2 separate regions of the Homo sapiens genome follow, and region 2 is linked to region 1. Evidence: fine-mapped expression QTL. Tissue or cell type: sun-exposed skin. Region 1 holds a variant in brackets; the other region holds the start of a gene. All regions are shown on one strand. Distances are between the middles of the regions.

Region 1 (15,526 bases):
TGGGATTACAGGCACCTGCCACCATGCCCGGCTAATTTTTTTGTATTTTTAGTAGAGACGAGGTTTCACCATGTTGGCCAGCCTGGTTTTGAACTCCCGACCTCAAGTGATCCGCCCGTCTTGGCCTCCCAAAGTGCTAGGATTACAGGTGTGAGCCACAGCGCCTGGCCCGTACCTACATCTTCTAACATTGCCTTATTTACCAGAGTGAAGGCTTTTGAAATATTTAGATGTCTGGTAAACAATAAACTTAAAAATATTGAGTTCGTTAAAAATGGAACTCAAATGTTTATTTAAATTCTAAGAGGCTTTACTGTTTTTTGAAATATTTGAAATGTTTAGAATAGTTACCAACATGCATACTTTACACTTTTGAGATGAATTATTTCTAATTCAAATGTACTTATCAGTGGTCCAATGAACCCCGATTCCTATTACACTGTGCATATATTAATGCTTCTTGCTAAGTGCCCACTTTTAAAAGTTTATTTCATAACTATATAAACAGGCATTTGGGGCTCCTGGCCTCACTGCTGCAGAGTGTCTGGAATGAGCATTTGTAGGGTCAGTTGTCATTATCTTGGTCACGATCTTTGGAGTGCTGTATTCCCATCACCTGCTGCACATAGCACAAGGTCTGGGTGTCACAAAGACATGACGTGACTCTTCTAGCATCTGTGATACTCTTGAGTAGTAATTTCAGAATACTTAGTGAAAGGCTCGAAGTGTTGAAATACGATGAAGTCTGGGGAGTTAACTTTTAGCCTCGACTTTAACTCATTTATTCTGTGCCAAAGAGGAATTTGGGGGAGAGGTTGAGTTTTCCTTTGTGGTAGCCTGGCAGGTGAGGACAAATCCACTTACTCTCCTCTTTCCTCAGCTAGAAGAGACGAGGAATGGAAGGAGATTTGATATTCCTTAGGAATTTTATTAATAGGAAATTGCTTCTTCTTTAACAATGAGGATCATAACTTCAGCTGAGATTAACTTTTAAGGGCTTTATTAAACTGTTTTAGCCACTAGCAACGATTTCCCTTACACAGATACATTTAGATTGACTTTGCACATCTTGAAAATAAGAAACAAATGAAAATACCAGAGTATCTTTATATGTATAAGTTGTGAAATTTGAAGTCTGCATTACTTCTTATTGGTTCAGTTTTCATGGGATTATTTATGTATAGGAGCAGCCAAGGAAAAGACCATAGCAGATTTTTGTAATGATGGAATGAGATTCCTGGCCTGTCAAGCCAGTAGGTGTGGGACTATGGAGAAAGTTCCTAAATTTTAGTCCAGTTATTTGAATGGAATCTTGAAGAGACATTTACTATTCATAGAGCAACCTGAGCTCGAACTGTAATTTTGTTCTAGTTGGGCAGTGGGGGAAGAGAAGAGACTTGAAACTAGTGTTATATGATGGACACGTCAGTGCTGAAAATTCACGGTGCCTGAGGTAGGTTAAACCTTCCTCCAACCAATGGTTTCCATGCAAGCTTTTTAACACAGTGATGCCTATCCTATATTTTTACTATTTGCACATATTACGAGCGATTGAAGGATGTTAGGAAGCTCTGACAATAAAAATGGTTTTCTTTAATGAAAAAAAAATTCTGATACCGTGAGAAGAGGACAGATACATCTTGCTCAATTAAATCAAAATGTGTGGGACACCTCATTTCTGCAGTTGCAGAAATGCTGAAAGTCACTGGATACTTAAAGCAATGAAGGAGGAAGAGGTTGGGGTTGGGAAAAGCAAAACTGATAATCTCCTTTGTGAAGACATCACTGTAAGAAGCAGGTGGTACTTACTGAACTCTGGAGAGAATGGAAAGTGTGAGGACAGCACAGTAAATAGAAGGAAAATTCCCTTAGCAGTCCACTTTCCAGGCACCAGTCACCTCTGGAACTTTAATTAGAACTCAAAAATGTGAGTGGAGGAATTAGAACAGAGGCCTTTCTATCTTATATTTGAAAAGTATTTATTTTACTTAGAAGCAACTTTTTATTAATTAAAAGCACATCAGATAAATCCTAATATTTGAAACACCTCCCCATATTTAACTAATTCCTCATTCTTCTAGACAAGGAAACATTAAAGTAATTTTTACACATCAACATATACTTCAGAAGAGAAAAAAGAAACCTTCATTAACTGAACAAATAACAAAATATGACTCAACATACACAAAAACCAGTGTATCATATTTTTGCATATATTAACTACATGTTGATGTAAATAGGAACAAAATTATTCCAAAGGGAGGGTGATAAATATGTGGGTTTTAGATTTTTCATGTTTTTAAACATATTGGAAATGTAATGAAATACAAGTTGATTAAGGTGATCTCTGTAGTACAGTGGAAGGTATTACCCTAACATGTCTAATTTTGGTATGTGAGCTCTGATCTTCTCAGTCATATGTTACAAATTCACAACTGAGTTTTCTTTTTTTTATGAATTTTTAATTTTTAGTGACCAAACTTCTTAGTTCTTCCCCCTACCTCAGCATGTCTGCCAATATATAAATGTTTACATATACTAAAGAAGTTGAATATTTAAATGAAGTTTTAGGTGAACTATTTTAAAAAGGAAAATTTTTTCCCTTAAAATTGTGATTATAATCATTGTGTTTATAATTCAAGCTTTTCTGTTTTAGGTTTCTTTCAGTGAGACATGTTTGTGTAGCACTACACTGAAAAAAGATGATTCTTATTGGTATGAAAGTTATTTTGGCATAAGACATTTTAGATTTCTGATAGATTCTGGACTTATGGAGCAATATATATGCTTACATTCAAAATAAAGTTTATCACTGTGCCCCTTTTAGAGCATGTGTTAGAAAACAGTGGCAAAATGTGATCCCAGAGTTAGGGTTCTATTTCCAGGGGAACTCACTAAGCCCTCTTTTACAAGAGCATAAATGTTTACCTAAGCAAGAAGGTGAAATCTGTTATGCCCAATAAAGGACATTTTGCAGTGCTGGTTTACGGAAAACATTCAACAGACAGTGGATGTTTTACATAAAGTACAGTGCGTTGTTTGAAACTCTTTGCTCATCTATACACTATGCTTAAAATAAACACTATCTGGGAATATACCCGTCTTTTTTCTACCTCCCTTATTCCACACCCTAGATTTTGTCACCTGCCAAAGTCAAATAAATCTTATCTAAACAGTTGAGATAAGCGCCGAGTCGTACCCAGTGTGGTCAAATCAACAAACCTCTCCAAAAACAGAAATGAAATACAATATCGCTAGATTAAACAGTCTACAATGGTAATCATGTTTGCATTTAAAGATTTTATTCCAAAAGGATCACAGTCTTGGTATCCATTTTTTTCCCTCCTGCCTAGACAAGACGGCGACATACTGACTCAAACAAAATGCATTTGTTCTCTAACAATTTAACTTGTACAGCTCTTATAAACAAGGCCCATAGGTGTATGAAGCCTACCGACTTAATCAGTAACTTATGTCGTTAACCTTGTATAAGCAAGTATGCTTGAGATGTACCAGTGTTGGATTGTGTATGGGATTTAGTTTTTTCTTGCAGGAAAGCCTTTCTTTATGTAGCCTGAGTGCAAAGTCTATGGCATTCTGGGATTTTATTGTCTGTATCTTACAGTAAAGCTCCATCATGCTAAACTGTTCAAAAAGAGAAGATAGTACAAATTAAAGTGATTTCTAAATTATAGGATATTATAAAAAATGCAGTTTTCTTCCTTCCTAGGACATATGGTATTTTAACTGTTTGATAACAAGGTGTAAACTCTACTAGGGCAGGAACCGTGTCTGTCTGGTTTATGCTGTATCCTCAGGGCGGACAAGAGTACCTAGCTCAGAATTAGAATTCTGAATATTTGTTCAATGAATCAATGATGTTTTCCAGAAGATATTCTGTCTTCTCTGTGGATGAATAAAAATATTTTGTAATTATTACATTAATTTCTGATATTTAAAAGCATGTCTCTCGAGAGTACATTTTTGTCTTACAGTTTTTAATAAATGGTCTCCTTTCAATGTCGTACCATTTAATTAGCAAAATTTAAAATACGCAATAAAGGAAGGACAAATGACACAATATCACTCATTTTTTGGTAATATCTCTAAGGTACTGTATTTGTGCATTTCTTACTGTAGAGCAATTTATACACTGACTGCTGGTTTGAAAATAACCCATTTTTCCATTATTCTTTAAGCAGATCTTCATTTACTTTGGTTCATGAAATTGGGAATTAGCCCAGTTGTATATAGATGCGTGATTTGAATATACTGTCCTTTTATTTTTAAGGTCCAAACAATAATACGAAACTTATAGTCTTATTTTCTAATTTATATTTTGCTTTATGAGAGCAAATATATCTACAAAGGTATATGTGCTATTTAGACATTGACCGAAAACTGAAGAACCTTTCATTTTAGAGTGCCTGCTATAACAAGGACTGTTTTCCACACAATAGAGGAGTTACCTCTAATCTTTATAATATCCATTTAAGGGGATAATAACATTACCACTGATATGTCTATTTCCCATGTGAATAAACCAAAGCTCATAGAGCTTACCAAGTCTCTCCAAGAGATGCACAGCTGGTTAGTCACAGAGCCCTGTTTTTAGTTCAGGTCTATCTAAATCCAAAACACAAGGTCTAAGTCTCATGTAATTCTGGAGAAAACCACAACTTTTGAGTTATTATATTGGTGAGTTAAGACTTCTCAGTAAACATGTTACTGTTTAAACTAGAGCTTTTAATCAGAAGAGAGTAATAAAATTTAGAAGTCTTACAAATACAAGGAATAGAACGCCACTATTTAAATTTGGGATCAAAAGAAGAATGCTGTTGGTATATGTGCCATTTAACTGGCCTTTATCATGGTCTTTAGATAATCCAGAATTACTTGAAATATTACTCACGAGCGTGTGTGCAGGGTTTCAGGTGTATGTTAAGAATGCCTGGCAGCACGTCTTCTGGCAAGATGCCCACGTTTGTGTGCATACTCAAAGGCCCCAGGTTTCCAGGTGCCCAAGCATCTTAGTGGTGAGATGCAGAAAGAATGCAAGTAGTATTTCCTTTCATCTTATCATCGAGTGTAAAATGTTCCGATGAATATGGTAGCAAGTGTCTTCCTTCCTTTGAAATATGAGTTTTCATCAGCTGTTGGATATGCTCACGTAACTAAGCCAAGCAAAATCCAACACAAATTTAAAAGTTGCTTGGCTACCTCTTTAGAAAATTTTTGTTATGTAATATACATTTTGGAAGTTTTTAATGTAACTGCCCAGGTGTGCAGATTTTCAGCTGGAGATTGATGCATCAGCATTCTATTCCTTAGAAAACAATGCTGGGTGTGACTCTTGACTCCTTTCACATCCAGTTGCACAGTGACATGCACCTCCCGAAGGTTTCTATGCTTTATTGAGTTTCAAATAAAGATTGAGGGATGATAGTTCTAGGCATTTCTGCCAAGCTGTGTTTTTCTTTTTTTTCTTCTTCCTTCTTACATCTTCTCAGCAGATTAATTAGAACAGTAATTGAAATAAATAAAAATTAAGGCAGCCCTGAAAATAAAAATGAGCCTTTTGTATCCACCACAGATTATAGATGCAGAGGAGGAAAAGGAGGCTTCTTCCCCTAGTAATGTCTGTCTGTTGCTCTTTTCTTTGCAGTTCCTCTCCTCATTACTATTTAGAGGCTCATGCTTGTATTACCATTTGCAGCAGGGATTTTTGCCTATGCCAGTATTTATTTGGCTTTCACTTTCTCAGGCATTTCGGCCTTTGTGCATTTCTGGAGCCAATAAGGCAAATGTGTGAGTGGTGGCATCCTTTCTTAAGGTTACCTATTATGACTTTTCCCTGGAGGTTCAGCAATGACTTTTGTTTTTCACATTACACACTTCTTCAGTTGTCTGCTATATGCAGGACACTCTGGCATGATACAATAATGTCTAAGACAAGATCCCTGCTATTAGGCTCTTAAAAATCTTCTTGGAGCGACCAACCACATACTTTTATACAATAGAGGGAGTAGCTGGAGTGTATCAGATGGCTTTTATTAATGTTAAAGGGTGGAATCCAAAGGTAGGGAAAGTCATGAGCCTTGGTATTTATGGAGTGTTTTGGAGATTACTTAGACTGGAGCTTGAAATTGCTATTTTGTTAGAAACAGCAGTTCGTCCACATTTAGAGCCATACTTTCCAGTTTCCCTTTCCTTCCAGGTGACCATAGGAAACTGATCCGGTCAGTGAGATGTAAGTAGAAGTCTCCTAAAAATTTATGATCCATCGGCATTGTGCATTTCTTCTTGTTGCTTTCCTCTTTCCTCCTTCGTCTGGCCTGGAATGTGAAAGTGATGGCTGGTACAGTAGCAGCAATTGTTCCAAGTGAGGAAAAGGAAAAGGCATGTGAAGACCACTTAAAAATTTTGGGCCCTAACATATTTTATCCCCTGAATCAATGGCAACCTACCTTAGCTTTGTTCAAGTCTCTATCTACTCAGATATTCTTTTACTTACTGCTGAAAACAATTTTTTAACTGATTCAAATGTATTTAGCACTTTGGCCATATTGTCATGTGGGTAATTGTCAGGATTTCATTCATATTTCAAATAATCTTCATCACTATATTCTAACTAGATGCCCATATCACTCCCTAATATGAGCCAATCTTTTAAGCTGGGGGGGAGGATTGAGTTAGAAACAAACAGTCAGGAATGACTGACATTTTCCCCCTCATCTAGACCCTGTGTTTTCATTTTACTTCCTAATAAACTCAAAGATATTGGAATTCAGTTTTTATTTCTCTTTAATTCCACTAGAATACAGATGATAGCTTCTATAAAAGCACTTTCCCTTCCCCAGCTGTCCACTCTTGGAATTCTTTGTCCATCTACACAACTTTTCCTCAACTTTATATTGTTTTGTCTTTTAACACCTAAAGACAAACACAAACTTAGCTAGGTAAGAAGAGGGAAATATTTCTACTATTAGATGAAGGATTATAAAAGAAAGGCAGAGAAACTTTCTAAGTTGTAATCTGTCTTCTAGCTTCAGAGTCCCTCAAATTTTTAAGGACCTTTTCTGGGTCCTTAAAAACGTAAAAACTAATAGGCAATGTAGTGAGTAAGTTCTGTGAACAGAAGGATCACCAGGGACACAGCTTCTGGCTGGGCTAGAGTGTGAACCAAGTGCTTTATATCTGGCAGGCATATGGTCAGAGGGAGTACGTGATTCTATGGTTTTTGTTAATCTTAACTCGCTGGGATCTACTCTCAGGAACTGGTCAACCTTTTCTTTCCTGTTATTTGGATGTTGGCCTTCCTAAATTTGTCTAAATTTCTTGGCTTTTTCCTCTTCGTTTCCTTTTTGATCTACTTTTGGGAAATTCTCACATGTATTTCCCAAATCTTCTATTGGGTTTTTCTGTTACCCTGTTTTTTGTTTGAAGAAACATTTTGTTCAATTAGGAGG[G/T]TGTTGCAAGAATTGCAGGCAATAATCGGGAATGTCTGAGAATGGGGTGGTAGGGGTGGGTGTGGTGAGGTGAAGTCATATTCTGGATGTGTTTGGAATGTGAAGCCAACACGATTCATGATGTGTTGGATGTGGAAGGTGAGGGGAAGGGAGGAATTAAGGACAGTTCCTCTGAACACCAAGCAGATGGAGGCTCCGTCATGTAAGACAGAAGAACATGTATAGAGTGTGCTGTCTGTTAGACACCCAAGTGGTGATGCTGAGAAGGCTGTTGGTTCTATAAGTGAGGAGTTCAGGAAGGAGGTCGGAAGCTGGAGATGAAAGTGCTGGAGTATTTCAAGCCCACCGTGAGACTGGGCGAGACCACCAAGGCGGTGAGTGTAGATAGAGGTAAGAAAGGGTGGCAGTAGTGAGCCCTAGGACATTCCAAAAATGAGAGGTTAGGGAGAGAAAGAGCCAGCAGGGGAGACTGAGGAATGGGGAACATTAGAAGTAGGAGGAAGAGGAAGAGAGAGTGGTATCCTGGAAGCTAGGATAAATGTTTAGCACGTGTATCGGAAGGAATTTATAACTGTGTCACATGCTGCCAAGGGTTGAGAAATGTGCATTTGGATTTCACAAGATCTAAAACACTGGTGACTCAGTAATCAGAGCAAAGACTTGATGAGTGGGTTTAGGAAGTGATGGGCAGAGAAGAAGGTGGGGACAACAAGTATTGACGACACTTTGTAGGAGTTGGAAGAGTTTTACTGCTTTATTTTTTTTTCCTTTTTTTCCCCCGCTCTGGTTTCTAACATCCCTTGTAGAGGCTTCCCATAGATGATTTGATCCTTGGCTGTCTGTTCTTGCTTAAGTCTAAAAGGTGATGAGAAGCCCTGAGTCTTCATGTTGGGCTCTTGGACTTTGAGTTCAGTGTAGCATTTTCGGTGTGGGTTTTTTGTCGGGTATTCACCCATGTCTTTATCTTTTGGTCTTTTTTCCTGGGATGGAGAGATTTCCTGGAGACTTCCCATTTCTGGCTTGGGGTGTAAAGGCCTGTCTGGCAGTGTTCTGGACCCTAAATTGGGGGAGGAGGGCTGAATGGAGGTATGGAGGCTTTTGTATTCAACATGCAGTACTCCACATGGTCCCTGTGTATTCAGCATAGCAACCTATCCTACAATTGTGATTGCTGTGTCTTTGTCCAGAGACTTAGATTTAATTTCTCAAGAAAATCAACCTGATGAAGTTGGGAAGGACTTTTTCAGAATGAGCATGTAACTGACTGACTGGCAGCATTCATCCAGTGCTCCTTGTTTCTGATATTCCTTGCTTTACCCTCAGTTGGACAAGTGCCTGTTGCCAGTTCCTTGGCCTTCAGGGTTGGTGCTCAGTTTTCTCAGTGAAAGTTATGGTTTTATCATTTTAAGGTCTACGAAACTGAGTAGAGCTGGCTTCCACATTTTGTTGCTGTCATCTCATCTTCTTTCTTCCAGTCCTTATGGGTTTACTTTTTTAAATATGTTTTTACTATAGCTTTAGTGAAACTTCAGGAGAGAACAAAATCAAATGTGTGTACTTCCTGTGCCATCTTAATCAGAGATGCTTCCCAGCAGTACGTATTAATACATATCACAGTGCAAATGGAATGAAGCAATCTGAATGTTAGGTGATGCTATTAAGATTTAGACCATCTATTTAGTAGTCGTTCACTTTCAAACTCTGTCACTTTGAGGATCTTTTACACCTGACAACGCAGTTCTTTCTGCTGTTTGCACAAGCTCTACCTTGTGCTTTTATTGTGGTGTAATTGTTGTGTAGTTATTTGTCGATGTGTCTTTCTACTTCACTATACTGTCAGCTCTTCTAGATGGGGGAGTGTGTATAACTCCAGATTCCCAAAATGTTTTGTAGGACATTTACAAAAGAGATAACAAATACTGTCAGATACATTTCAATTACGCATCCCCAAAATGTAAAAGTTTCTATTTCACTGAAATATACAGTGAAACAAAAATTAACTGCTTACATGTCCTCGTCGTCCTGATTTTAAAGTCGAAATGACATGCTCCCTGCAGTTCCTCAGAGAGATCTCTTACAAAATGTAGTTTCCTGGTAGCTAGAGTAAGATGACAAACCTGACTCTTAAATGAGAGGATGCTTCTGATCTCTGCTACATAAGATGAGTGTCTGCTCAAACAAAGGTCTTTGCTTCTCAGCAGCTTGCAAAGCTAACTTCATCAAAGCTTTTCCTGTGGCTTCTGTATTTTAAATGGGGTAAAGATGCTTTCTTCAAGCCCTTATACTCTGCCAGTGAAAAGAGGGCATGAACCGTAAATATGGGCTGATTTGTACTCATTTTGTGTTTAAGCTTCTGCTGACTCTACTTCTCTTTCCATGTACTTTAACCCAAATTAGTGTTAATGGCTTCCCTCTGGTTACTTGTTTAGTCTTCTATGTTACTATCAGTACAACTGAAACTGTCATTTTTCTTTTTGCTGAGAATGTTTTCAACCTGGTTCATCTGAAACCTCTCAATCTAAGATACTGATTTGGAGAGAGATTAAAAAAAACATTTTCCATTATAGGAATGTGAAATGGGCCGTAATAATAATCACAACAACCAACATTTTCTGAGTGTTTGCTTTGTGCGTGGCACTGCATTTGACTTTTATTATTTAATCTCCTGCAAGAACTCTGTAGGGCAGGTCCTCTTCTTATTAGGTCCATTCTGCAGATGAGGAACTTGAGACTCTCTGGGTTATGCAGATAATAAGTTGTGTGGTCACTGTGCCCCACTGCCTTCCAGTGCCATCAGGTGGCAATGTGACATGACATATTATCTTTGTGTTCTGTATTTTTGAGCTATGATGTCAGCTAGAGTGAAGTTAGTTATTTATGAAAGGACAATCAGAGTGATCTCAAAGAAAGGTCAGTTTATCCAGTAAAATTAAAGGCAGAGTTGATTTTCAGGAATTGCTAACCTCAGCCTGTTTTAGCCTTTCAGCATTCGAGAAAGATGTTTTTCCAAGTCTTTTGTGTACTGGGTTCTTCTAGATAGAGAAAGGATACAACAGTGAATGAAGCATGACCATGTAATTATGGAGGGAAGGGTCTGTCCATATTGTCTCACACGTCTCTGTATATCTACAGAACGTATCTCATATGATCTCTATTTATAGAAATGATGAGGTTTAGCTGATTTGATAGGTTATGCCTAAACCAGAAGCCAGCCTTCCTGACTAGTGCACTTTTTCTTTCCACTGAATCATGATGCTTCTCCATGTCTTTTGTCAACCTAGAGCCTAATAGGAGAATAAAAACATTCGAATTAATGAAATTAACACAAGGTAGAGACCCATAGAGCAACACAAGTTGGAAGCTGAAGTCCAAGGAACAGAGAGCCATGGGTTAGCAATGTGTTGTGATGGGCAGCCCCTCAGATGGTCCCTGGAGATCCCCACCTTCTGAGACTCACGGCCCTGTGATATTCCCTAGCCCTTATATGTGGGCTACACTCACGACTCACACTGAATAGAATAGAACAGAACAGGGGTGATGGGATGTCACTTCCAAAATAAGGTTACAAAGAGAAGGAGGCCCTGTCTCGTATGCCCTTTCTGTCTCACTCTAAGGGAAGCCAACTACCTTGAGAGTTGTCTATGAAGAAGCCCATCTGGCAAGAAACTGAGTCAGACTTCCAGCCAACCAGTAGTGAGATGCTGAGGCCCTCAGCCTGAGGAACTGAATCCTGCCAACAGCCTGTGAGTAAGGCTGGAAACAGATCTTCCTGCAGAGCCTTCAGATGAGACCGTAGCCCCCGCCAACACTGTGATTGCAGTCTTATGGGAGACCTTGAGGCAAAGGCCCCTAGCTGAGCTGCACCTGGATTTGTGACCCACAGAACGTGTGAGATAATCCATGTGTGCTCTGTAAGCCCCTAAGCTTTGGTGTAACTTGCCCTGCAGAAATGAATAACACACTTGGTAATAAACACTGTGAGATTTTCTAGTTTGGGGCATCTTTACCACCAGTTTAGCAGGTCACACAGGAAAGATTAAAGTAGGTGACTGCAGTGGCTGGGATAAGTGTTCATGGCTTATGAAAGGAAGGGGCCATCAAGCACAGCCCTGAGAGACTGCTCCAGTCCTGTCTCATCCAACAGATCCCTGATTTTAAAAAATATCAATGTAAGGCATGTACTAACACTGTTCCATAGCTTAAAATGTTGCATTCAACAAGAGTAATCCTATCATATTGAATTATACAAATAGGTTGGGCACCGTGGCTCATGCCTGCAATCTCAGCACTTTGGAAGCCTGAGGTGGGAGGATCACTTGAGGCCAGGAGTTCAAGACCGGCCTGGGCAACATAGCAAGACCTTTTTCTCTACAAAAAAATTAAAAAAATAGAAATATTATCTGGGCATGGTGGCATGTACCTGTTGTCCCCGCCACATGGAGAGGCTGAGATGAGAAGATTGCTTGAACCCAGGAGTCTGAGGCTGCAGTGAGCTATGATCATACCACTGCACCCTAGCATGGGTGACAGAGTGAGACCCTGTCACTCTGTCTCTCTCTAAAAAAAAGGGATTACACAAATAAAGTGAACTACTTAATCTGGCTATTCAAAATATGTGAAAGATCAACAAATTTGTCTAATAATGTTTTGTTGAAGTGCTTTGTTTTAAATGAGTTCCTTTTAAGGCACATTTAAAATAAGTCCTTTCCCTTCTGTGCAGTTCTTTGAAAGTATAGAGACAGGATTCATTTTATCATGTAAACATTCATACAGATAGATTACTTTGCTCTCTAGCCTGTGGGTAATTCAACATTTGTAGTAAGTTAGAATAAGAAGCATGTACCACATTTCTGGTGCTGACAAAGGCAGCCACGGAGGAGAACACGTTAATAGCAAAGACCAAGTGTCCAAGGATAGACACCTGCCTGCGCACAGTCAAGAGTGGGACTGTTTCTTATGTTGAGTCTATAATGCTTGGTTGTTTTGAATTGCTTTATTCTTTTATTTTTTTAATGTAATGCAGTCATCGATCAAAATCTTAAAATCAAAAGAAAACAGATTTCTTTTTCTGTTTGGACATTTTGAGACATTTTAAATATCTTAGGTTAAATTGACGATTGGACTTCCAAAACAGGCCATTTCATTTTTCATTTTTTAACAGCATGCTTTAACAACAATGACATTGGATCTTAGCGAGCTCATACCGGTGGAGCAAGTTCGTACCGGAGGAGTTCATGATGAGAATAGCTATTGTGAAATTAACTTTTAACTATTGAACGCAAATGTTTAGTCCTGAACCTAGTTTTAATTTAGCACCTAGTTTTAATCTAATTTCTGAACCAATGTGTTTACAGGTAACATACACCTTAAAATTAATCACACCCATTATTCCAAGCCTTTCTGAATTATTTTTCTACTATATAATTACTTATTTTCCCCACATGATAAGCATATGCTATAAACGAAAGTTATCCCACTTGATAAAGTCTCAGAGAAGTTTAGTGTCTTGATCAAAGACACACAGCCATTTGGTATGAAAGCCTGAAAGATTACTATGTTCTACTCTCTATCTAGACATTGGCATTTGATAAAATCGTAGACAAGAATTGTTGTCTATTTTGGTCTGGAGTGATGTCTGTTTGTTTGGTTTTTTTTTTTTGTTTTTTTTTTTTTTTGAGACAGAGTCTGGCTCTGTCACCCAGGCTGGAGTACAGAGGCATGATCTTGGCTCACGTAGATCTTGGCCTAGGTAGATCTAGGCCCTCTACCTCCCGGGTTCAAGTGATTATCCTGCCTTAGCCTCCCGAGTAGCTGGGATTACAGGCATGCACCACCACACCTGGCTAATTTTTGTATTTTTAGTAGAGACAGGATTTCACCATGTTGTCCAGGCTGGTCTCGAATTCTGGGCCTCAGGTGATCCGCCTGCCTTGGCCTCCCAGAGTGCTGGAATTACAGGCGTGAGCCACCACATCCAGCTGGAGTGATTAGTAACACGTGGTCATTTGTAGGTTGTTTAAAGGAAGTGGTAAATATCTCCGTTGTTTTAATCCTGGAAATGTAGCATATTTGACAAATAAGTGAATAATCTTTTAATGTGCAAAAAAGGTCTATAGTTCCTCTCAACACCTTTCTCCTTGAACCCACTCACATAAAAACAGAACAGATGCTTCCTGGTTAAATTGATTTATATATATTTTTGAGAAAGTGATTAAAACTGCATTGTAGACCTGCAGGGGGTGGGTGGGGGTGGGAATTGTAAAGAGTCGCAGACAAGGATGGGTGTTACTCAGCATCTTAAAGCAGCAAGGAGGAAATGAGTGTGAGATATCTGACCTCCAATCTGAAATGTAATCACATTAACACCTTGCTGAATATTAGAGAATAAAGTAATCTGAACTAAACATTTATCACTGAATATTCTTTTAAATTTTGGATTTATCTGAAATCTAGTCTTCTGCTTAATCATTTAAATGCTAATAAACAAGACAGAGTATAATGAAGAAGCCCAGGTAGTTCTGTACCAGGCTCTCTTGTTTCACTCTAATGGTTTATCATTCAGGTAAAGGTTCCATCCCTCAGTAGATGCAGTTGGAATGGATTTTTTGTTTTTCTTTTTTTTGGATACACGGGGAAGCTAAAACACAAATTGAAAAAAAGTCAACTCGTTTAACCTTGGGCTTCATAGCAAGGCTCACTTGAGCAGGAAGGATGTTCTAATAGTTGAATTTATGTGAAAAGTTGGCATGGGGAGGTAACATTAACCAACTACATGTCAGACCCTTTTACTTGTTATTGCCTCTAAGCCCCACAAAAACCCCAAACCAAAACTTGGCTAATATTTTCCATTATTTCCTTGCCCCTGCCCCATAAAGGAACTGAAACTTATAAAAAGTAACTTACTTGAAGTAATGCAGCAGCAAATAAAAATTTAAATTTAAACTTAGTTTAGTTCGATTCCATGTTCTATGTTTGTTCCACATCAGGAAACAGCATCTTGTAAAAATAATATTCCCTTTGGAGGAACTGTCACCTTGATATAATTTCAATACTCAGGTTCTTTCCTCCGAAACAAGGCTGAAATTTTGGACTTGGAACCAAGAAATTTCTGAGGAGTTTTTTCTTTGAATCTTTTTGCCACCGAAATAAATAAATACATAAATAAGTAAGTAGGTAAGTACATAAGTAAATAAGTAAAAAATAAAAAATGCATTCAGTCATTCTTAGCATGATCTAGAACTCTGATCATGGTATTCTCTTCTCTGTGCATTACCAGTTGTCTGCAGACTTTCAAGGCTGGGCTATTCAGCATATTCCCACCCAAATAGCTCCAACTTCAAATCATTATTACTCAAGTAACTGTTAACACTTCTAGTATACTAGTGTAATCCCTGATGTATAGGAAACACCTCACATTTGTTGAATACATTTGGGAATGCTTATTTCCTTGATTTTAGAATTCCATCCATTGAAAATGTACCATTGACCAAATCACAGATTTTAAGGAAGGGAGAAATGGAAGATGCTACTAAACGTCTAGTAACATAGACATTTTGATCTAAGTCCTGATTTCTGAAATGTTAGCATATGCTTTTTAAACTGGGGAGGAAGTATGGCACTTCGATAATTGTAATCTTTCCCAAATTGCTTCTTTTACCTTTATTTCCTGTCTAGAATTTCTATCACTGCATCCATTCATCTGTCAGTATTTAATCTTTCTTTCTTTTTGGCTACAAAAGCATGATTAGATTTTGCCCTGAAAACTGCTCGTTCCCATTTGAATTGTGTTAATTTCTCTCAGGTCAACTAGGGGGAAGTTATATGGAGAAACAGTAACAGTGCTGCTTTCCAGTGAGATTTTCTGTGGATGAGTAAAAAATGAGATTTCATGGGTTAGGACCCTTTGAGAACTTGTTTAGGAGCACATAACATGTATTAAGATATTCATTATTAAGAATATTCTTTCGATCTCATGTATATGACATTGCATGAGATAGAAAGATGAGAAACCTCAGGATATTCACAAGTTTTATGTGGGGAAAACTTGTGGGTATAAT
Region 2 (15,526 bases), 330 kb after region 1:
GAGGCATGGCTCCTCTCCCATCCATCTCCCATCCATCTCCCATCCATCTCCCATCCATCTCCCATCCATCTCCCCCTCCAGCACAAACTTCATTGGCTCACATGGCTACCCATCCCATTTAAGACAGCTGAAGGTGTTAGAAAGGTTGACATCAAATTTACTGCCCTACTGTGTGGGATTTTTTACCTGTTCTTCCCCATGGACTGCCTTAAAGTCTGATGAACCTTAATGATTCCTTCTCAGAATAATGTTTTTAAATTCAAAAAGTATATACTATTACAAGGCAAGCTATATATACATACATATACATACACACACACATATATGTTATTGTGTTATTATATATGTATTTTATATATGCTATTGTGTTATATATGTATTTTATATATATATATATGCTATTGTGTTAGTCCATTTGCACTGCTATCATGGAATATCCAAGGAGGCTGGGTAATTTATAAGGAAAAGAGGTTTATTTGACTCACAGCTCTGCAGATGTACAAGAAACATGGTGCTGGCATCTTCTGCTTGGCTTCTAATGAGGGCCTTAACAGGCTTCCACTCACGGCGAGGGGTTAAGGGGAGGCAGGGGTGTCACACAGTAAGAGAGGGAGCAGGAGAGAAGGAAGGGAGGTGCCGGGCTCTCTTTAAAGAACGAGCTTTCAAGTGAATGAATGCACTGAGGGAGAACCCACTCATTACCGTGGGGAGGGCACCAAGCCATTAATGCGGGATCTACCCCCAGGATGAAAACACCTCCCACCAGGCCCTACCTCCAGTATTGGGGGTCACATTTCAACATGTGATGTGGAGGGGACAAATATCCCAATTAGATCAGCTTTATATAACTATACGTATGTGTGTGTGTGTGTGTGTGTGTGTGTGTATAAAATGTATGATATACAATTGTCTGGTCCTGTTTATAAGGGACTAAATAATGAGATCTAAAAGCAGGTATGATCACTTCCATAATTTTCAAGTAGTTTTAAGTACTAGGTAAGTGTAAGTGATATTTTGAGACTCTGGTATCAACTGTAACATGAAAGTAATTCTGATTTCTATTGGTGACAAAGCTGTGATTCCACTGATGTTACTGTGGTTTGTTACATTCGTAACTAAAGAGAATGTGATATTTCAGTTACAGGTAAGTGGAAGTCAAGAAGCAATTTTTTTTTCTATCAAATGTCACAGATTCCCCTCAATTCTTATAGAACACCAAAGTAGGCTGGGCATGGTGGCTCCCGCCTATAATCCCAGCACTTTGTGAGGCCAAGGCAGGAGGCTCGCTTGAGCCCCCGAGTTCGGGACCAGCTTGGCAAACATGGTGAGACCCATCTCTTTGTAAAAAGTAAAAGTAGAGGTTCCTCTTCAAAGACTTTCCTCCCCATCTAATTAGGAATAAATAGTAACTTCTCTTAGAAGCAAAATTTATTCAGACCTGTGCTCCTAAATATTTGCCCTGGCATGCTTATACTGGTCCAAGCAAGCATTAGGTCATAGCCTGTTCCTCTTCCTTATTTAAAAGTGTTTTTACCTTTCTCAGCATTCCACAAGTTACTTCCTCCTTCCTTTGTTCTCCTCTACCTTTGCCTCTTTTAAAAAGTTCTAAGTTGCTAGCCAATCGGGACAAATACAGAATGTGAGGTCCCGTTCCAGCCAATGGAAACCAGACACAGCAGTAGGATGGATGCGTCAGGTTATAAATGACCCTGTTTCCTTTGTTCAGTGTACTCTCGTGGCAAAACTGCTGGCGAGTGTACCCTTTCTACGGAAGTAAAAATGGCCTTACTAAATATATTAAATTTATGTTCAAGTGCTATTTCTTTATGGCACCAAGGAACAAGCATTCCAAACATCTCCAAAAAAATTGAAAAATTAGCCAGGCATGGTGGCACATGCCTCTAGTCTCAGCTACTTCGGAGGCTGAGGTGGGGGGATCACTTGAACGTGAGAGGTTGAGGCTGCAGTGAGTCGAGATCATGCCACTGCACCACTGCACTCCAGCCTGGGCAGCAGAATGAGACCTTGTCTCAAAAAACAAACAAACAAACAAATAAAAAATCACCAAGGTAAAAAGTATCCTTATAGAGATTTTTTAAAAATCTAACCTCTGAAAACCACATAGAACAAATTAGTCCCCTTAAAAACTCTCCTGCATCTCCTAAATTAAATCTTCTAATCCAAAAATCACAGCGTTTCCAGAATTTTCAGTAATCTTATCATTTTCTTCTGCTTGAGCAAGAATTTGTTAATTTCCAAGGGGAAGCAATGAGCCCAGAAAGTCAGCGTGCATTCCAGGTTGTTATGAACAGGCCATCCCAGGGGAATGACAGATAAATTTACAGGAACACCTTGGCATTCTCTAATAATAAATAAATAAATTTTCTTCTACTTGGAAAAACAAAACCTATCAAAATTGTTGATTTAGTATTTTAATGTCTAAGTCGTAAATTTTTAAAAAATTAATTGATTTTTCATGACATTTTTATTTTCTCACTGAAATGATCATTTTAAACATTTAGGAGTCTGTAGCATAAGGGATAAATAACACAAGACAAAAAGAAAAAAAACAAAAAGTTCCCAGGACAAAAGACTGGGTTTGTCATTTGTTTAGCCTATGGTAGATGTGTGTGTTTAGAATTTTTTGAAGACTGTGTCTTTCAGCAGATAAGCAGCAGTCTCTGATCCTAGCTCTAAATTAGCTGCAGCTGGATCTCAATAGATTCAGATCAGAAATAGTTCCTTAAGCATCAGTTTTGTGCTGAGAAATAAAAAGAAGAACAAGAAATAGCCTCTGCCCTCAGGGGAGCTTGAAAGTTAGTGAAAGATGTAAACATGTTACAAAAATAATTATACAAGGAAGACTAAAACCATATTAAACTCCAGTGGAAAAAATATCTGAAATGATGTAAAGAAAAAATTTGAGCTATTACAATGAAAAGACTTGTGTTGTCAAATGGCTTTGTTAGTAAGGCCAAAACAATGCCATAGATTTTCGGAGGATCCTGGTTATAATACCCAACAAACACCACTGTAATCATTAGGTTATTCCTGGTCTTTCCTACTAGTATTGAGCTCTTTAAGGTACCTTAACTGTCTTCTTCACTATTATGCCCTATAATCTTGAACACTGCTTTATGCACATAGTATCTTTTCAGTACTTGTAAGTGAATGAAGGCACAACATACTAGAGGAAGTGTGGAAGAGTTAAGATTGAAACAGTTCTTTTTTTTTTTTTTTTTTGAGGTGGAGTTTCGCTCCTGTTGCCCAGGCTGGAGTGCAGTGGCGCGATCTCAGCTCACTGCAACCTCCACCTCCCAGGTTCAAGCCATTCTCCTGCCACAGCCTCCCAAGTAGCTGGGATTACAGGCGTGCACCACCATGCCCGGCTAATTTTGTATTTTTAGTAGAGACGGGATTTCACCATGTTGGCCAGGCTGGTCTCAAACTCCTGACCTCAAGTGATCCACCCACCTCGGCCTCCCAAAATGCTGGGATTACAGGCGTGAGCCACTGAGCCCTGCCAGATTGAAATGATTCTACAGCATGCTTGACTGTGTCACTTTTTGAAAGCTCTAAGTCTTAGTAATGTCATCTGTAAATGAGGATAATAACACTACTAGCTAAGATTTTTGTAAGGATTAGATGATACCTATAAAATGTTTAGCAAATAATCATTCTTTAACTAACAACTGTCAGCCATTTCTCAGAGGGAAGCACGTAGAATTGATGTTTACAGCTGGAATGAAGCCCAGTGAGCCACTTCCGCCTTCTCATTGTAAAGAGTAAACTCAAGAGAGAGTGTAGACTTTCCCCAAGGATGTGAAAAATGGAAACAGGTGCAAACCCAGGTCTCCTGAGTTTCTTAGGTTAAATTTTTTTTTTCATAATTACTAGATAACTCTCTTCTAGGTCAAAAAAAGTCTTAATACTATTAGACCCTCTGACAGAAAGTGATGCTTTTTGCCTGTTTCCTTCAAAGTTTACATTCTCTGAGTTCATAGAAATGACATTGTAAGTGTATTTTCCATACCATTGGTCAAGTTGAAGTCTTAAATACGTATGTTTGAAGACACATATTTCTGCATTGCTCCAAGTTTTCATAAGGAACCATGAAAGGTGGTCTCTGCAGGCCAGGGGATGGTGCCTCCAGACACTGAGCACGCTCTTAGCAGAGAAGTTAAAGTTTACACAGATCTATGTTGCTCTCAAGTAGTGGGCCTGAGGGTGAATATTTTTCATCTGTTTTTCGTCTATTAGATGGATGATAAACATCTGATCAAATCCACTCCTGTGGATCTGAAACTAAATCAATCAATATTCCATCATGATTGAAATCATATATGTAAATTCAATCATTTAATGATGGGCTAGTGCTATAGAAGATGTTTGCTGTTATTGTTTTTGCATATGTGAATAACTGGCAGGAATTAAATGCAAGAATGTGTGAAATAAACACAAGAATGTATGTGAAATACAGGAATTAAACACAAGAATGTATGTGAAAATATAATGTAAAGGACTATACTAGTAAAAGCAACCATACTGTTGATGATTAATTGTTATTATCTTATAATTATACAAAGAGACTCAATAGATATCTGTTGAATGCATGCCTGTAGGACTGACTGACTGAAGGAATATGTTCTCAGCTATCAGATGTTACGGTTACAAGAAATTCTCAGTAAAACTTGCAGAAGATAAACTCCTGAGACTGTGGTGAAGACTGAATTAAATAATCTGTGAGATGTGTCTACTCTAATCTGGCACATGGTATGCATTCAACAAATGTTAGAACAATCTTAATTTTTAAACATTATCAATAAGAGAAAAGTAAAGATCGTTTGAAATGCTGATGAGATTTAAATTCCTAGCAAAGGCAGAGAAATCTCATTACAGAGCTGCTGGATTTTTATTAACTCTAAGTACAATGTCACACATCCATCAACTTTCCCAAAACGTAGCTACCATAATTAGAAAATACAATGCATTATCCAGGGTTCGTGTTATAATTGCATAAAAGCAGAGAGAAGCAGCTAGTTTTCCATAGATGATAAGATTAGCTTCCTCTCAGCCTTTACAGTCACACCTATAGAGCCAGGTTGAATAATATTTTTAATGCAGACAATGTTTGTTCTAGACGAAGTCAACTTAGCATTTCATAGGAGCTGGTCAAGTGTTCCCCTGCTTGAATAGGCTCAAAGGGTAAAGCTAATTAAAAGAAAGGGAAATTGAGTTCACTGTGAAATATGCTGCTGCTTTTCTGATTTTGCCAGGTAGCACCAATTCTGGAGGCCAAAATAGAAACAAACCCTTCTGGATGGTGTGCCTTTACTAAGACTCTAGAGTTGGCTCTCCAAAGGGAAGAGGGCACTTCAAGTTGGAGGGAGATTTTTTAGCCATTTGGCGACCGGAGTCTTCCTCATGGTCAGGGGGAGGTATCAAATCACTTTTTCAGAGTTTGCATGCTGCCCTCTCCTGGCCTGTATAGACAGGAGTGTTACAGTACATCAAATGCATTTATTTTCCCCCCACACCTGTGTGGGATATACCTAAGAACACAAGAGAGTTTATTTAAAATATTCAGGATGTCTCATCAAAAATGTATACTTGAAGCTAATCAAAAATCTATATCTGAAGGTAATTAGAGGAAATACATTCATTTTCATTTTCCTTTGGCTCCAGGATTTATACTGAAGCATGTCAATCTTTATATCATGTCACTTTATACCCTTGTGCTTCCACCCGCTCACGTTCCATCCCCTTAACATCCATGTGGCTCTGGGACTCTGTTCTACAAATCAGTGCGCCAACACCGTCTGGGTCCCATCAATGTGCTGGCCACTTAAAGACATCTTTCCAACTGGAAGTGGTGGTGATGGGAAATCTGCTCAAGTCATTGGTCAGTGTTGAGTCTGAGGACCACATTTTAGCCTGACATGTGATCAAAATTAATTCTAGACATTATTAGGCCTATTATACCTAATATTATTAGAAACAAAAGAACTATCAAGAAGCAGCTAATCCAAGAAGAAGATGGCACCATAGGTCTAATTTTTAATTGAACACCTTGTCCTTCAAAACAATGTCTTGTGTGACCCATTTAAGCCGAGTGCTGGGCACGTTTTCCCTGGTTGAAATAATTCTTTTTTGTCCGTAGATATTTGAAGGACCCTGATACTGAGAACATGCCTGCAACCTGGCACGTTGCACAGGGGCAATTGCTGTAGCAACACTGAAGTACAAAAGTGGCTGAACTAATCTGTTGAGTGCCTGTGCCTCTGCAGTCTCTCAGTGTCTGCCCTTGACCCAGACAGGCCAATCCTCTCCATATCAATAAGAACTGAGAGTCTAATACCATTCCTTTGCATTAGAAAAAGAGATGTTTACTTTAAAGAGATTTAAAGGCATGTACCTTGTTTAAACTTTACCAAACTTATAACTCGAGGGTATGTAAAGCTCTGGCTGGCTCTACTAAGATTCATAGAGAATGAACTGTTGATTACCTCTCTCGGTGAAGAATGATAGCAAAAAACAATGAATAATCACAGCATTGTTTATATTTATCTTTGAAAAGCCATCAGTGTCTCCTAGTCTATACAAAGTGAATATAATCCGTCTCACACTCACAAAGTTGCTACCAACACACCCAACATTGCTTTAGAGTTAGAAAGATAAGACAGAAATAGGTCCCAACTTATTGCAGCTATTTTATTTATAAAAGATTGACAAATGCTCACAATCATACAAAACAACTCTTTACCAATAGAATGTAGTTGGGTCGATTAACTTATATTTATTTGCACAGATCAGTTCTTTACAGTTTCTTTCTGATGTAAAAGGAAAAAAAATTTATCTATAAAGTTAAAATGCCTTCTCCCAAATATAATATTCACTTGCCATGTCTATACTTTGACACGATTTCAAAAAGCACCCAGTTAAATCATTCAGATCAGTCGATGGGCAAAAACTATGAAGTTTTCCTGACTCTATGGTAGAGCTAAGCATGCATTTCCTTTAATGACAGAAAGAACATGTTCATCTGATAAGAAACAAAAAACAAACAAACAAAAAAAGGTCGATATAAATTCTCCACTGTGATATACAACACAAATACCTTTCTTATAACTTTCTTATCTTCCTTGGTCGGGCACATGTCTTGGGACAAAGGCTACCTTGAAAGCTAAGCACGGCTGAATGGTGAGTCGATTGCGAATTATCAGTGAATGGTTTGGATATGATCGACTAAGACTCCACTGGGAAGAGTGCTGTTTAGACGAAAGGTAAGGTATTTGATTGCCCCTGCACCTGCTGCAGAGCCATTCTCTGGCTGTACTGGAGTCCCAATCTGTTCCACTGCAGAAAAAGCGCTTTTCATAGGGATTCAGAGCCACATGAATACCAGCCAGCCCTTGAAGACTGCAAAGCAAGACCAATTTTTTAACTGACTTCTTGCAGTCCCCTCTGGCTTTTCCCAGGAAAGACTGAACTCATTAAGCAATGCTAATTTAATCACAAGTCATCAAGGGGTGGGGAGTTATATAACTATCTTTAAAATTTCAAATCAAACATGATAAAATCTCAGGAAATAGATTTTTTTAACAAAACCCACACCTCAAAATAAAAAAAAAAAAGAAATAGAAGTTTATGAGTTTTAGGATCAAATAAAATAAAATCAAACATCAATATTTTCTTACAACTATCACATCTACTAGATAGTTCCAATTCATGACTTTTTAATGTAGTAATATGTGAGATCCTGGAACTGAACGTGCCTGGCGTGCAGAATACAAATGCATTTTTAAACTCGTAAGACAATGTAGAAATAAGTCAGGTACACAGGAAGGATCACTGACAATCACGTTAAAAAATAACTACCTCCCTTCTCTCTTCTCCTTCAACCACAGCGTAGTGATAATAGTGATATTTCCCTCATGAGGCGGGTGCACCTTGGCCATATGCTTTAAAAAATCAAAACTCTGCCGAAGTCCGCTGTGGTTCCTATTCCTGTAGGGAGGATATTAACCTGGTAGGTAGGTGGGAGAGGTTCGTAGCCCGCTTTCTAACAATTGGATGGTGTTTGCCTCGCTATAGTCATGATTAGAATGGCGGTCACCAAGAGGTATTTATTGGTGGGATGACAACATATTGGTATTGACGTTATTTAAAAGAGAAAGAAAGAGCGATCACGGTCAAGTTTGAAGGTCCTTATGTTACACCCACGCATAATTCAATAGGTGAATAAACCTTGTGGCCCCCAGACACACGCCAACAGCTTGAATTACCCGGGGTGAAACCGGCGAGACGTCCACTCAGGGCTTTCGGTCCTGACCAGCCACGGAACAAACAACGTCAATTCATTCTAAGTGCCTGGTGAAGGTAGAAATCAGAAACCGTGTCTGTGTCACGTTAGTCGTGACAAGCTGCGTACCTGCAATGACGTGATGGAAGCCTCCTCCTCGGGTCCCTTCTCTCTCTCTCTCTCCCTCTCCCTCTGCCTTCTCTGAGTTCTCTAGTCCACAGCGGGGTCTAAGTTTGGTCTCCCGCCGCCGCTTTCAGTTCGACCGCAGCCAGACTGCAGCAGACGCCCATAAGAGAAGCGCGCCGGCTGAGGGTGCAGGAGAGGCGAGAGCGCGCCCCGCGCCGCGCGGTCCCAGGCTGGCTGCTCCTGCAGATGTGAAAGGAGCCCGGAGACTTAGCTCTGAATCCTCTCGGCGCTGCATGGGGATATTATCAGAGTCTGGGATTTCTATTGGCTCTGAACACCAAACAAATCACACCAGCCACCCCCCTTCTCTGTTTCACTCAGCGCTTGTTTCTCATCTAACCCACAAACATTGCAGCCACACCACACACTTCAGTCGCTTGCAATGTTTCTCTTTTCCTCCTTCCAGTCAGTGGATTTACAACCCTGTGGTCAGCTCTAACATTTTTTTTAGCAGACTTCCAATTCTAACCTTCTTGTTTATGTAGAGAAATTCTCCCTCCATCCCCTAAACCAGAAAAAAACAAAAAACAAAAAAAAAACACTCATTCCCTTCAGATCTTCTTCCTTTTGCTGATGGGTTTCCAATGTGAAGAATGTAGAAAGCCTGTGTGTGATATGTCTGACATTCTCATACACGTGCGCTTACACACACACACACACACACACACACACACACACCAGGCTCCTTTTGTTTGCAGTAACTGAGGCCAGTGAAATAAAAAGCAAGCTGAGCCTAATAACCTAAGTGAGAGCTTAACTAATAAAATCTTGAATGAATTCAGTGCAAAACACCCATTGCTTGAATTTGTTTTCTGTTCCAAATAGTACTTTGGTCATTATTATCCTGATTTTTGTTTATTGAATGCAGAGGTTTCTAATGCAAATCAGACTCTTCAACATCCAGAGAACATAAAACAATGACGCCAGACCAATTCTTGTGCTCCATCGGCTTGGTGCGTTATACCAGAAGCGTATTGTGACGCCTAAGTGCTTGCTCTTTTCATTATTTTTTGAACTTCTCACCACTGATCATCTCAGGACTGAGACTCCCTTAGTGTGATTCACCAGCCAAAGACGACTATTCAGACTCTGCTGATAGAGGTTCCTGGATGAAAATTTTTTATCTGTATGTGTCAATAGAGATAAACCTTTGGCCCCTTGGCAGGGAAAGGGCCCAAGAAAAATCTGAGATCTTACAAACTTGGCTGGGGAAATTCAGAATAAAATAAAGTTTCAGTGTGTCTTATAAAACAGACCCTCCCTTAGACTTTTCCCCAAAATCAATTTCACTGGTGCTTATGGAAATTTTAATGACAGTTATTCTTGACAAGAAGCCATTGCTTCTGAAATCTCTGAGCTCTGTTTTGATTTTTGACTTGAATTTTTTTTTTGCAGTGTTATCCCTTTTGTATGCTATTTGGTATTTGATATTCTAGTTCCAACTCAACTCACAGCACATTGGGTTGCAAATTCACAGGAAATAACAATTAGTTCTTGAAATATACTATCACCAAACAGACTACCTGCCTTCTTTCTTACGTGGGCACATTACAGGAATTGTGAAATGCAGCCTTATTCTCAGAATGGGCCTGCCTGAAATCAGCTGAAATTGACAAAGGAAATACAAAACAAAACCACGTTTAGCAGTTGGTTCCTGCTAACCACAGTCTAACCTCAAATGGCATATCCTTATTGCTTCAACAACTCCAGTTCATTCCCTTTCTTTAGGTAGGCAGCTAAAAACAAAATACTGTCATAAATCTTTGAAAGTGTAGAATGTATTTCTTCTAAAGATCTCAACAGTCTTCGAAAAAAAAAGGAGTTATAGGTATGATATTCCAGATTTTCCAGGTGGAGAAACAGAGTGGAGGAATGATAAAGTGACTTGCTGAAGGCAGACAGCAAATAGAGCTGGGAGAGTGGATGACTGCCCTGTTTGTTCATACAAACTGTTTGACTCAAAGGAAAGCAAAGGGTTAACACAGCTGACTCTCATTCCTGCCTGCCTTTGCACAGAAGAGCTAACAATTCATGAAATCATCTGTCCAACTTGGTAAATAGTCATTTATGTTATTTCAGAACGGGTCATGTTATTTTCAGATAAGTTACCAATAATTTGCCTTCGAATTGCCTTTCTAGAAAAGAGAGAAACAGTTACTGAGAAAACCAAGTAGATCATTGTATTTTGTGCTTGTTATTTTCAGGGCTCATTATAGCTCTTCATAGCACTGAAAAGACAGTGTAAGTGAAATCATGGGTGACTTAAAGTCACAGATCTATCTTAAACTTCATTTTAGATAATAATTCAAGCCCTCTGTCCTTCAGTTAATGAAGAGCAAAACTGGATGATTTAAAGGACATCTATACCCCATCAGTTGTGTGGTTAAGGGAAAATAAATCGTCAGTGTTTATTATTCTATATTTAGTCTTTTCGTCATTTTGCTACCTTTAAAAGAGTTTTTCAAAGACATTTCTTAAATCCTTTATAAATGACACAGACATCCGTAATAATAAAAACGCTTGCATCTCAGCATGCACAGCAGCGGACAGCCGGGCAGATTCATGACAGAACAATCATTTTATTTTCCACTTATTCAGCCACATCAGGATCATCCTGCTTAGTTCAGTGTGGCACTTTTTACAGGAGATATTCACAAATTGGCATGTATCCAAAGGAGTTGATAAGATGATGATTCTGAATATTATAATTTATAAGAGATGCAAGAGAGAATCAGGCATCTTGGAGTAGGAACTGAGGTGAAAATGATAACATTTTCAAACAGTAAAGGTAAAAGAGGAAATATGTTTATTATTCAGATAATGCTTCAAATGTATTGTCATTTTTATAAACATTTTCTTTCTTGATTTTTTTAAACAACTCTATGAGGAATGTAAGATAAATGCTACTAGGCTAATTTTAGAGATTAAAAGAGTTTGTATAGTAAAGTCACCCTGATGTAGTCACAGTTACGATGCCAGAGGATGGGAATAAGTTGAAGTGGACCCGAAACCCAGTGCTGTTCTGGAGAGAAAATAAGGGTAGGCAAAAATCAGGATAGCAAAAGACTTCTCAAAATTAAAGCTTTCGGAAATTGAAAGAATTTCCTGGCAAAGTGATGATTTGGAGATTTTGATATAGGTCAATGAAGTGGTCAAGAAAAGTACTCACAGTCATTTGCAGAGATTATGAAGGGATTGTTATAAAGGTCAGACTAAGTAACCTAGGGTTTACTTCAGCTCGAAATCATCTTTGATGCTATTATTGGCTTTTACTATATTACAGAATAATTTACAATTTTATTGAATAATTTTCATAGTATGCCATTAAATTTTTTAAAAGATTATGATTACGATCTAAGTATATTTCTGAACTATAGATGACCGCAGATGGTCTTTTACCCTTCTTTTGACATATCTGTGTGTTCTATGATGAATATGTATAATTTGTAATAAGAAAAAAAGTAAAAAAAAAAAAAAAAAGAAAAAGTAGAAGAGCTTATAATTCTTCCTCTACTATACAAAGATACAAGATTTCCATATGACTAGTTTGCCGAAGACTGACATTGCATTCCCAGTGTGATAAGCGTAAGATCACATTCTTGATCTTGTCTGTACCTATTCATGTGTTTTCTTTCTAGCCTAGGTTGGACGCCATTCTAATGCTAATGTTTTCCCCTTGGTTATCTCTTTATTTATCTTAATAGCTTCCCTTTAACTTATGGATTTATTGATAAATCCGTACGTGCTTGTTTTGTCCTTTTATAGCTATAATTATTTCTTAGATTATCATAGTTTACTTTTTAAATTGTTAAAGTGTTTTTGATGCACAAAGTTTGTAAATTCTTCAATTTACTGATTATTCAATATTTATTCCTCCACCATATAAGAAACCTTTATTTTCTAGAAAGTCATTAACTTTGTTTATTAATACTGTATGTTTACATCAAAACCTCAAAATGAAATCTATATTTATGATTCACTGATACATATGAATCTATGCTCTTGCGGTTCACAAATTTCAACTGTTCACATGTATTAAATAACATTTATCTCTCTTGTGTCATGGTGATTCTACCCAGAATATATGAGTGATTTATAAGAGTTTTATAGCAAAATATATAGCTCTCACTGTGTCGCAGAATAAACTCCTTGTCTATGAGAGTGCCATCTGTCATGTTTGTGTCACCCCAGTGGAGCAGAGAACACAACCCACAGATGAGCTGGGGAAATTAATAGGAAAGGGAATGACCATGTATTCAGCTCAATCCCTATATTTTCCCTTAAGACCCAGGGAGCAGGTGGTTGTGGGTTTTTTGATTCATTAGCCCATGCTTATTAGATGTCAGCAAGGCCTCTGCGCCGTACTCTTACTTCTGAGATGTGGATGGGTAGAGGTGAAGAGGGCAAAATGAGAGTGAAGAGAAGGCAGAGCCACCTTTGACCTGCATGTGCTTATGACATCATATAAGCGGTGAACGCAGGAGATGGTTAAACTAAGATTCAGATTGACAAATGTAGCTGAAGGAGTGGCCAGAATGGCTCCATCATGGCACCTGCCACTTCCTTAACTCTTTCCCAGACCCGATAGCCCAGGTGAAGAAGGAGACCTAGATAGTAGTATAGATAGCTGTAGAAGTATCACATTCATCTGCCCCTACAGCTACAGACACCAGACTAGGAGAGCATGCTGGACTCAAAGGGAGCCAATCTGCCACCCATGCAGAGATAATGGGAGGTGGCTGTCCATCAGATTTCTCCTTTTGATGAGCTTGAACTAGGGTTATCTCTCTATCATCCATCTATCTATCTATCTATCTATCTATCTATCTATCTATCTATCTCTCTCTCTATCTGTAGCTAACTTTGTCATTTGATAGCAATAACATAAGCTTAAAGAGTCAGAAAACCAAGCCAGATGTGGTGACTCATGTCTGTAATCCCAGCACTTTGGGAGGCCAAGGCGGATGGATCACAAGGTCAAGAGTTCAAGACCAGCCTGGCCAAGATGGTGAAACCCCTTCTCTACTAAAAAGACAAAAATTAGCCAGTGGTGGCACGCACCTGTAATCCCAGCTACTTGGGAGGCTGAGGCAAGAGAATTGCTTGAACTCAGGAGGTGGAGGTTGCAGTGAGCCGAGATTGCACCACTGCACTCCAGAGTGAGACTCCGTCTCAAAAAAAAAAAAAAAAAAGTCAGAAAATCAGAGAAGAGAGAGTATACTAGTTATGGTCATGGTTAGAATAGGTGTCTATGAAGATCTAATAGACCTCTAATGTATGTCTTGCGTATGAGCAAGAAAAGATGAGGTCCAGTTGTTTAATCTTTCTGAGCTTCCACTGGCCCTGCCTGTATTTCCTTTGTTTCTGTGTGTATCCATACACCAAATCTCTAGTGTTTGAGGTCATCTGTGTGACGTTCTCCTCCTTGAAGAGTACATAAGGAAAAAAGCCCAATAGAAAATCAAAGCAGGTACCATAATTTAAGAAGTTTGAAACTTAGCCTCAGGCTAAGTTTCAGATGATGAACACTATTGCACCGTAGTTTGGTGCCTGGACTTCGATGTCAACATTGGGTTGAATCCTGAGTCACTTACTGCTTGGATATCCTTGCTTTTTTTGTTTTGTTTTGTTTTGTTTTTGGAGAGGGAGTCTCGTTCTGTCGCCCAGGCTGGAGTGCAGTGGCGCGATCTCGGCTCACTAAAACCTCCGCTTCCCGGGTTCAAGTGGTTCTCCTGCCTCAGCCTCCCGAGTAACTGGGACTACAGGCACACACCGCCATGCCTGGCTAATTTTTTGTATTTTAGTAGAGACAGGGTTTCACTGTGTTGCCCAGGCTGGTCTCGAACTCATGAGCTCAGGCAATCTGCCCACCTTGGCCTCCCAAAGTGTTAGGATTACAGGCACGAGCCACCATGCCTGGCCTCCTTGCTTTTTTTCTGGGGTTTCAGTTTTTGCATATATAAAATAAAGTTTACGTGACAATGATGTAAGTTCTAGGAGGATTAAATTAGATTTTTGTTTAGAAGGATTACACAGTGTCTGGCCTGGAGAAAATACTTTATAAAATTCAGGATCCAAGCTCAATAGAGCAGGCATTTCACATGCCAGGAATAGCAAAGGCTACTGAAGCTCAGTAACCAGCGTTTGAATGTGGAGGGGAGAATCTATGTGTTCAATATGGTTTGGGGGAGTGTCCTCTCTGGGATCGTTTTGGGCTCCCATAGAGAAGTATACTGATTTGGCTTTTAGAAATAAGCCCAAATCATTCAGAGCTATTCCTCACCAGGGAGACTAAACTGGCTATTTCCATTTTAGAGTACCATTAAAGCAATGTGATATATGAAAAGTCTCTAAGCTCTCTAAGGGCAGAAACTGTATCTTATTTGAGTTTTTCTAACCAGTGCTTACCACTATTCTTGGTACAGAGCTGGCACTCAGTAAAAGTTAGTTGAATAACAATTTATAAACTAATTTGTTAAAAAATTAACTACTGGGTGTGGTGGCTCATGCCTGTAATCCCAACACTTTGGGAAGTCAAGGTGGGTGGATCACATGAGGTCAGGAGTTCGAGACCAGCCTGGCCAACATGGTAAAACCCTGTCTCTACCAAAAATACAAAAATTAGCCAAGTGTGGTGGCGGGCGCCTCTGATCCCAACAATTTGAGAGGCTGAGGCAGGAGAATCACTTGAACCCAGGAGGTGGAGTTTGCAGTGAGCTGAGATCACATCACTGCACTCCAGCCTGGGCGACAGAGTGAGACTCCGTCTCAAAAAAACAAAAAAAAATTAACTGATTGATGAATTTATTAAAGGAGAGATGACTTCCTTATGTGGATTGTAAACTGGCACAGAACATAATTCTGAAGAAGGAATCCCAGTCTGTTTCATCCAATAGAAATATTGTTTGAATTAAATGTTTGATGGTGGTTGATTGTATTATTGTCCAAAATATTCACTTCCCTGCCCACAGGACCCATTCCTGAGAAAGGATAATATAGGCCTACTCCCCTGACTGAGGCTTGGCACTTTGGCTTATT

Which allele goes with the higher level. Alleles are on the strand shown, and positions count from the first base shown. SD is a standard deviation of normalised expression in the study named.
As copies of G replace T in region 1, the expression in sun-exposed skin of the gene that starts at base 8,703 in region 2 goes up (small effect, 0.30 SD a copy in GTEx).

The links. PIP is the estimated chance that this variant, and not a neighbour inherited with it, causes the effect.
Region 2: GREM2 starts here. The variant in region 1 is fine-mapped to the expression of GREM2 in sun-exposed skin (GTEx, PIP 0.93).

The regions. Positions count from the first base shown.
Region 1 is chr1:240,277,665-240,293,190 of GRCh38, forward strand. All of the region lies in intron 7 of FMN2 (formin 2), which reads left to right. Among named protein-coding and RNA genes, the nearest start is that of FMN2, 190 kb to the left of the region's middle. The variant G/T (reference allele first, on the strand shown) is at 7,470.
Region 2 is chr1:240,603,453-240,618,978 of GRCh38, forward strand. It overlaps GREM2 (gremlin 2, DAN family BMP antagonist), which reads right to left and starts at 8,703. Exons shown (of 2, transcript NM_022469.4): 1 at 8,432-8,703. RefSeq lists an enhancer at 3,407-3,906.